2 linked regions of the Homo sapiens genome follow. The protein of the gene in region 2 purifies or fractionates together with the protein of the main gene of each other region. This does not show direct contact. Each region holds a gene or a part of one and is shown on either strand. Other genes may lie near its edges. The genes, in order: POMP and ASPHD1.

Region 1 (3,807 bases), on a different chromosome or scaffold from region 2:
CAGCTGATTGGGTTCACTTTATTCATTGCATTAAGATAAAGTTTAATGGTAGTAACTGTTCTTTAACTGTTTTTAAAAGTGAAGATTGGCTGGGTGCGGTGGCTCACGTGTAATCCCAGCACTTTGGGAGGCCGGGGTGGGCAGATCACCTCAGGTCAGGTGTTTGAGACAAGCCTGGCCAACATGGTGAAACCCTGTCTCTACTAAAAATATAAAAAGAAAAAAAGTGAAAATTATTTATGAAATTCTAAGAGTACATAGTCATTTCAGTCTAGTAATGGTGGTTATTCACTTCATGTCCTGAGCTTCAAGTGTAATATGTCAGTCTGATATTCCTAGGGTGACTTAAACAATGATAATTATTTCAGAATTCACATTGTTGGGATGTGACTGGTGTTGTTTTTGTGTGTTTAGTTTGATTTTGGGGTTTTTTGACTAGCATTTTAAACAACTGGAAAATAAATCTTTCTTTAAAAAGTAGCTCCCCAAAAAAGTAATTTTTGTACTTCTACAGGTGATAAATAGGAAAGAGGAATCTGTCTTTTTTTTTTTTTTTTTCAAGATGGAGTCTTGTGCTGTTACCCGGGCTGGAGTGCAGTGGCGCAATCTCAGCTCACTGCAACTTCCGCCTCCTGAGTTCAAGCAATTCTCCTGCCTCAGCCTCCCAAGTAGCTGGGATTACAGGCACCCATCACCACACCCGGCTAATTTTTGTATTTTTAGTAGAGACGGGGTTTTACCATGTTGGCCAGGCTGGTCTCGAACTCCTGACCTTGTGATCTGCCCGCCTCGGCCTCCCAAAGTGCTGGGATTAGAGGCGTGAGCCACTGCACCCGGCCGAATCTGTTATTTTTAATAAAATTCCCTGAATAATTGTAAATGAATTTAAGTAAGAACAATATATGCAGCATCCTCTATTTTTTCTGGTCCTGAGGAAGATAAACAAATACAATCCTGTCCAATGCTGCCTCTGCTCGTTATGCCCCAGCAGTGCAGGAGAAACAAAAATATCCAACAGGATTAAGTTTTATTAGTTTTGCTTGGCTGCTGATGTCCGGTAAGGAAATGCTGTGGACATAACAGAAGTCTAGTGAGCCTCCTTTCAGAATCTTCCCTGAGGGAGCATTTTGGATGCAGGAAAAGCTGGGATTCTTAAGCTTTTACATTGAACTTAGACCTTATTTAAAACTACTAAGGTGATAGTTCAGGTCTTTAGTTACAAAAGCATTCATTTAAAAATCTGCTTCTGTAATTCTGTTTAAAGAAAGGGAGAGGGACTTAGGAGCATTTATCTAGTCAGTCAAATATGTGTCAGGCACTGGGCTAGGCTCTGAATATACAGCTGTGAACAAAACAAATATCTGTGCTTTCAAATGGGGGAGATAAACACATAAACACAAATATACAATTTGATAATTCTAGGAATAAAAAGGATGTTTTTGGGTTGGGAGGGCACATACCTCTGGGAATACAACACAGAAGTGAATTTCTGAAAGAAACATGAAATCATTGACCTAGAAGTAGAAGGAGAGTATTTCAGACAGAAGAGATGAGTATGTTCAGGGTATGTAACCTGAGAACAGCTGAAGAACTCTGAACGGTTTGAGATCTTACTCTACTTTGAAGCTAACTTGTTAGCCTGCCATGAATTCATGGATGCTGGCAGAAGACAAGAGACTCCTAAAGGACAGTTTCTTATTCATAGCAATAGCGTAGCCAGAGTATCAGCATTTCTTTTGGTTCCCTTAGCCCCACTTCCTATGGGGCAGCTAAGAAGAGGGTAAGGTGAAGCCTTGTACATTGAGTGTGTTACGTTAGAGGAGAGGAACTCCATGTTCAGGCCACCTCAGCCTTATAACTGGCAGTAAACCTGCCTGTCCTGTGCTGCTTTGTCTTATGAGGCTGAAACGGCTTTGGAAAGATAGCCTAGAACAAAGGCAGTTTAGTGTCTCTGCTCCCAGCTTGCAGAATGGAGAGACCAATAGAGAACTGTCTCCCAGCATATATAAGAGCACTTTAAGAAGGCCCATATGGCTGGCATGTTTTGAGCAAAGTAGAGAGTAGAATAAGGTTGAGATCAAAAAGCTCAGCAAGGAACAGATGAATCAGGGCCTACAGACCATGAAAAGAAGTTTAGAATTTCTTCAGAATGCAAAAAAAGGCCATTGAGCAGTTTTAAGTAAGGATGTAATGTGATGGAATTATATGTTTAAAAAGGTCACTAGCTGGCTGGATGTGGTGGCTCAGATCCATAATCCCAGCACTCTGGGAGGCAGAGGTGGGAGGATCAGTTTAGCCAAGGAGTTTGAGACCAGCCTGGGTAAGATGAGACCCTGTCTCTACAATTTTTTTTTTTTAAATTAATTGGGCATAGTGGTGTGCAGCTGTAGTCCCAGGTACTCAGGAGGCTGAGGCAGGAGGATCACTTGAGCCCAGGAATTTGAGGCCACAGTGAGCAGGGATCACACCAGTGTACTCCAGCCTGGGCGACAGAGTGAAACCCTATCTCAAAAAATAAAAAATAAGCCACTTGCTATCTTGTGGGCATCTTTTAAAATTCATTCCTTGTGTCTCTCTAAGGTAGCTATTAGGAAAAATCACCTGTTTAGGTAGATTTTTTTTGTTTTGGAGACACGAGTCTAGCTCTGTCACCCAGGCTGGAGTGCAGTGGCGCGATCTCGGCTTACTGTAACCTCCACCTCCTGGGTTCAAGCAATTCTCCTGCCTCAGCCTCCCAGGTAGCTGGGATTACAGGTGCCCACGACCACACCTGCCTAATTTTGTATTTTAGTAGAGTCAGGGTTTCACCATCTTGGCCAAGCTGGTCTCAAATTCCTGACCTCCGGTAGTCTGCCCGCCTCAGCCTCCCAAAGTGCTGGGATTACAGGCGTGAGCCATCACGCCCGGCCAGGTAGATGATTTTTATCCACCTGGTAGATGATTACAGTGAGACCACTGTATTTGGGGTAGTTTTTTTCTTGTGGGAACTGTTATTGCATAATATACGGTTAACTTAGGGCTTCACCTTAGGGACCTGAATTAGCTGTTCCTTTCTGCCTCAAATAGTTTACCCTCATTTTTCAGATCCCAACCTAAATATTACTCAGAGAGTCCTCCGTTAACTACTGTTAGTCTGTTCTTGCATTGCTATAAAGAAATACCTGAAGCTGGGTAATTTGTAAAGAAAATTTATTTTGGCATATGGTTCCTCAGGCTGTACAGGAAGCATAGTGCTGGTATCTGCTTCTGGTAAGGGCCTCAGGAAGCTTACAATCGTGGCAGAAGACAAAGGGGGGCCAGTGAATTATATGGCGAGAGGGAGCAAGAGAGTGAGGGGGCTGCCACACAGCTTTAAACAACCAGAACTTGTGTGAACTCAGAACAAGAACTCACTTATCCGGGGGGTGGTGCTAGACCATCCATGAAGTGTTCAACTCTGTGGTCCAGTTACCTCCCTACAGGGCCACCTTCCGCACTGGGAATCACATGGCTTTGTTTTTTTTCTCTCTCTGTCACCCAGGCTGGAGTGCAGTGGCGCGATCTCTGCTCACTGCAAGCTCTGCCTCCCGGGTTCAAGCGATTCTCCTGCCTCAGACTCCTGAGTAGCTGGGACTACAGGCGCCCACCACCACGCCTGGCTAATTTTTTGTATTTTTACTAGAGATGGGGTTTCACCGTGTTAGCCAGGATGGTCTCGATCTCCTGACCTCGTGATCTGCCCACCTCGGCCTTCCAAAGTGCTGGGATTACAAGCGTGGGCCACCGCGCCTGGCCGGGAATCACATTTCCAACATGAGATTTGGAGGG
Region 2 (3,907 bases):
ACCAACCCTTTTAAAAAAGAAGGTGTAGGGCTAGGCACGGTGGCTCATGCCTGTAATCCCAGCACTTTGGGAGGCCGAGGCGGATTGATCACGAGGTCAGGAGATGGAGACCATCCTGGCTAACATGGTGAAACCCTGTCTTCACTAAAAATACAAAATAAAAAAAAATTAGCCAGGTGTAGTGGCAGGTGCCTGTAGTCCCAGATACTCGGGAGGCTGAGGCAGGAGAATGGTATGAACCCGGGAGGTGGAGCTTGCAGTGAGCCAAGATCGTGCCACTGCACTCTCGCCTGGGCGACAGAGCGAGACTCCTCAAAAAAGAAAAAAGTGTAGGCTTCAGGATCAGAGAGACTAGAGCACTTAACTAGAATGTTCTAGACTGTTGAAAGCTTTCTTTTTTAAATTTCAGCTTGTGTTTATGAGTACTTTCTTGTCACCCAGGCTGGAGTGCAGTAGCACAATCTCAGCTCACTGCAGCCTCAAACTGCTGAGCTCCAGTGAACCTCCCACCTCACCCTCTCCAGTAGCTGGGACCATAGGCATGGGCCACCGCGCCCGGCTAATTGTTTTATTATTTGTAGAGACAAGGTCTCACTGTGTTGTCCAGGCTTTTTATGAGTACTATTTAGGGCAAGTAATACTGATAGTGCTATAAATATTTCTTTTAAATACGTAGAACAAAAGGTCGGGGGGAGAGCCAAGGTGAAGAAACGCAGTACAGATGGGAATGACCACGGCAAAGCTTATGAAGGTGGTGTGCAGATAACCGAGGCTGAGGAAATGCTGCTGTGGGTGGCAACAGGGAGCCATGGAAGAAGAGAGGCACAATGAGAACCAGACAGCAGACGGCTCTGGCGGAGAGAAGGGTCTGGGGGGGAAATCATCGAGGCAAGGAGGTTGTCAGTAGGCGGCAGCTACTTACCCAGATGGCATCTGACCCGGGCATTGGTGGGCCCACAGCGGCCCTCGAGCCGGGCCCCAGGCAGGAGAACGGAAAAGCCGGCATTGCCGAAGGTGTTGGCACTCATAAAGCTTCGAAGCCCCCTCAGTGCCCGATAGGCCCCCGGGCACCGGCGGCAGTTGCTGGGTTGGCACCGGCCTGCTTGGTACAGCAGGAGCTGGTAGCACCCGGGGGCCAGAGGTGGGGACCAGCCCCGAGGCGGAGGGGTAGTCCCTGAGAAGTCCCAGCTCACAGCCCCGAAGTCCCGCAAAATGGCAGGGAAGCTGCTCTCCAGGAGCTCCACGTCGTGCCGCTGGGCGTCCCGCGGCACAAAGGGGGCTGAAGGCAGGTCTGGTAGGAAAAGCAGGCCTGGGCGCTGAATACCTAGGACCCCTGGCCCTCTCCCAGGGCCTGGGCCACCCTGAGCTGCCCGCCTCACTCTACCCATCCCAGCCCAGGAGTAGCGCCTTGCGTAGGCCCGAAGCCGCCGGCTCACTAGGCCTTCCGTCCTAGGTCCTTCCCCGGGATCCCCAGGACCCCCTGGGCTTGGCCCGCCGGCCTCCGAGCATCCCACAGGCCCACCACGAACACCCCCAGCTCGGCTCCCAGCCCCTAGGGCCTGCATGTCTTGGGAGCCCAGGCGGTAGCAGTACCAGAGGAACAGGGAAGTGAGGGCCCCGAAGAGCAAGGTGAGGGCCGAGGAGGCCAGGGGTAGTGGCCACGGGAGCATGATCAGGGAGGCCCTGGCCAAGAGGCCTGGGGCGTCCTCCGGACCCCAGTTCCCCTGTCCCCCCAGCTCCCCACCTGTCCCTTCCATGGCTGCCCCCTGGCTCCCCGCTGGACTGTTTCCCTTCCACATTCCACTCTGGGCTGTCTCTCTCTCCTTCCGCGGTCCTCTCTCCACGCTGAAGCTCCCTCTCCCCTCCTTCATGCACCTCCAACCCTCCTCTCTCCTTTCTCTCCCCTTTCTCTCTCCTTCTACCTCTTCTTCCTCCTCTCCCTCTGTCGCCTCCTCACCCTCTTCTTTCTCCTTCCAGCAGCCTCCTCTCTCTCGCTCTGCTTCTCTCTCCCACCTCAATCTCCCCCTTTCCTCCCCACCCCCGCTTTTCGCTCGCTCTCTCTCCCCGCTTCCTCCTAGCTCCCCTGGGCAGCGGTTCCTACCCTGCCTGGACCTGCAGTCCCGGGAACCCGCAGCCTGTCTTCCTCCGCGGCAGCTTCTTTCTCTCCGGCCTCACTGCTCTCTCCTTGCCCTCGCTCCTCACTAGCCCCGACCCTGCGGTCCTGCCTGGCTCTCGCTCCCTCTCTCCTACTCGCTCCTTCCTGGGCTCCCACTCACCCTGACGTCACTCCTTCCCGGAGCCCTCTCAGCTCAGCCACCCCCGAACCCTCCCAGTGGCACAGCAAATCAGCCGGGTGCCGGGGGAGGGGGGAGAGTTGTCGCTGGAGGTGCCTCCCCACCCCCCCCGCCCGGAAAGGGCGCCACGTGGGGCGCAGGGGCCACGGTGCCAGCCTCCAGCCGTCCCGCAATGCGAAAGAAGGGGCGGGTCGTATCGGGCGGGGCCTGAGGGGCGGGGCCTGAGGGGCGGGGCGAGCGCGGACTGACGGCTGGGCAGGCGCCCGGGACTGCGGGCAAGGATGCTGAGGCCAGTCCGTCGGGCGGCTGGTCCGTCGGTCGGTCGGCCTGTGACTCCCGCTGGCCCTAGGCAGCCCGGGAGCCCGCGAGCCTGGCAAACACCGAAAGCGGCCTCAGCCAATCGCGGGCGGCGTCGGGCCGGGCCCGCCCCGGCGGGGCGAGGGGAGCTGTCCGCGCGCCGCTGGTGCTGAAAAGGGCGCTCCGGAGGGAAAATCAGAGCCGAGGCCGCCTGTTAGCTGGCCGGGGTCAGGGTTTATGGAAGAGGAGGGGTCTGTCTCTCCTCCCCAAACCCCGGCCCGTCACCCACGAGACTTGTCACAATCGTGGAAGCTCTCTATTCCCCTGGAGGAGGGAGAGCCCATTCCACCCGAGCTACTGTAAAAGGGGAAGGGAAGCCCCTTGGGAGGTCTGAATGTGAACAGGGGGCATAATTGGGGGCCTAGCAGGCGCGAACCAAGCTATGCAGCCCCTCGGCACCCTGGGAAGAGGAGATTCAGATTCCAGATGTGCTGGAATGGCAGGCGGAGGGGGCTAATTACTGCTGGGACCAGAGAGTTTCCTTTGCCTCCCCTAGGGGCCGCGGGAGTGAGGATTACGGCCCTGGCTCGTATGATCCCTCCCTCCTCCATCTGCACTTCCTCCTCCTCCCTCCCCGTCAAATAAATCCCAGGCCCCTCCCTCCGCCCGTCCCCAGGATCTGACGTGGGCTCGATACCTTTCTCAGCTTCTCCCTCCCGCAGCTCCAGTGCCCGAGCTTCGGCTCTCCCAGTTCCCCAACCCACCCCTTCCCCTCCCCGACAAGCCCCGCTAGAGCCCAGTGGAGACCCCCTCGATCCTCGACCCCACCCTAAACCCCCAGAAGCTGTCTTTCTCCTCCCCAGTCCCCTAGCTTGGGGTCCAGACAGCCCAGTGGACCCAGGCGCCTGAGCAGGAGGGTAACCCAGGCCACCCGGCCCCTTCGGCCCTCTCGGCCCCACCCCCTGCAGCCGGAGCCGCGCCCCCTCCACCACAGAGCCGCGAGAAGAGGACAGAGGAGACTGAGCAAAGGGGGGTGGGCTCCAGGCGACCCCTAGCCCAATTCTGCCCCTCCATCCCAAGGGGCAGAGAAATTGTCTTTCTTTGCTGACTCCTACGAGGAAAAAAAAAAAAAAAAAAAAAACAATTAAAGGGAAAGATAAACGGAGACGGAGGAAAGGTGGCAGCCAGATTACTTAGAGAGGCACAGAGGAGAGAGATCGGGGTGAGTCGCCATGGGGACTCCCAGGGCCCAGCACCCGCCGCCTCCCCAGCTGCTGTTCCTAATTCTGCTGAGCTGTCCCTGGATCCAGGGTAAG

The links.
Region 1: the proteins of ASPHD1 (region 2) and POMP purify together in Homo sapiens (affinity purification with mass spectrometry; one large-scale study listed by BioGRID and IntAct). This does not show direct contact.

The regions. Positions count from the first base shown.
Region 1 is NC_000013.11:28,672,530-28,676,336, forward strand, and holds part of POMP (proteasome maturation protein), read left to right. Parts: intron 1-3,807. UniProt on the Homo sapiens protein: Molecular chaperone essential for the assembly of standard proteasomes and immunoproteasomes. Degraded after completion of proteasome maturation. Mediates the association of 20S preproteasome with the endoplasmic reticulum.
Region 2 is NC_000016.10:29,898,936-29,902,842, reverse strand, and holds the start of ASPHD1 (aspartate beta-hydroxylase domain-containing protein 1), read right to left. Parts: upstream 2,356-3,907; 5' UTR 1,872-2,355; coding exon 923-1,871; intron 1-922. Other genes in the region: SEZ6L2 (seizure 6-like protein 2 isoform 5 precursor), read left to right, coding at 3,824-3,902.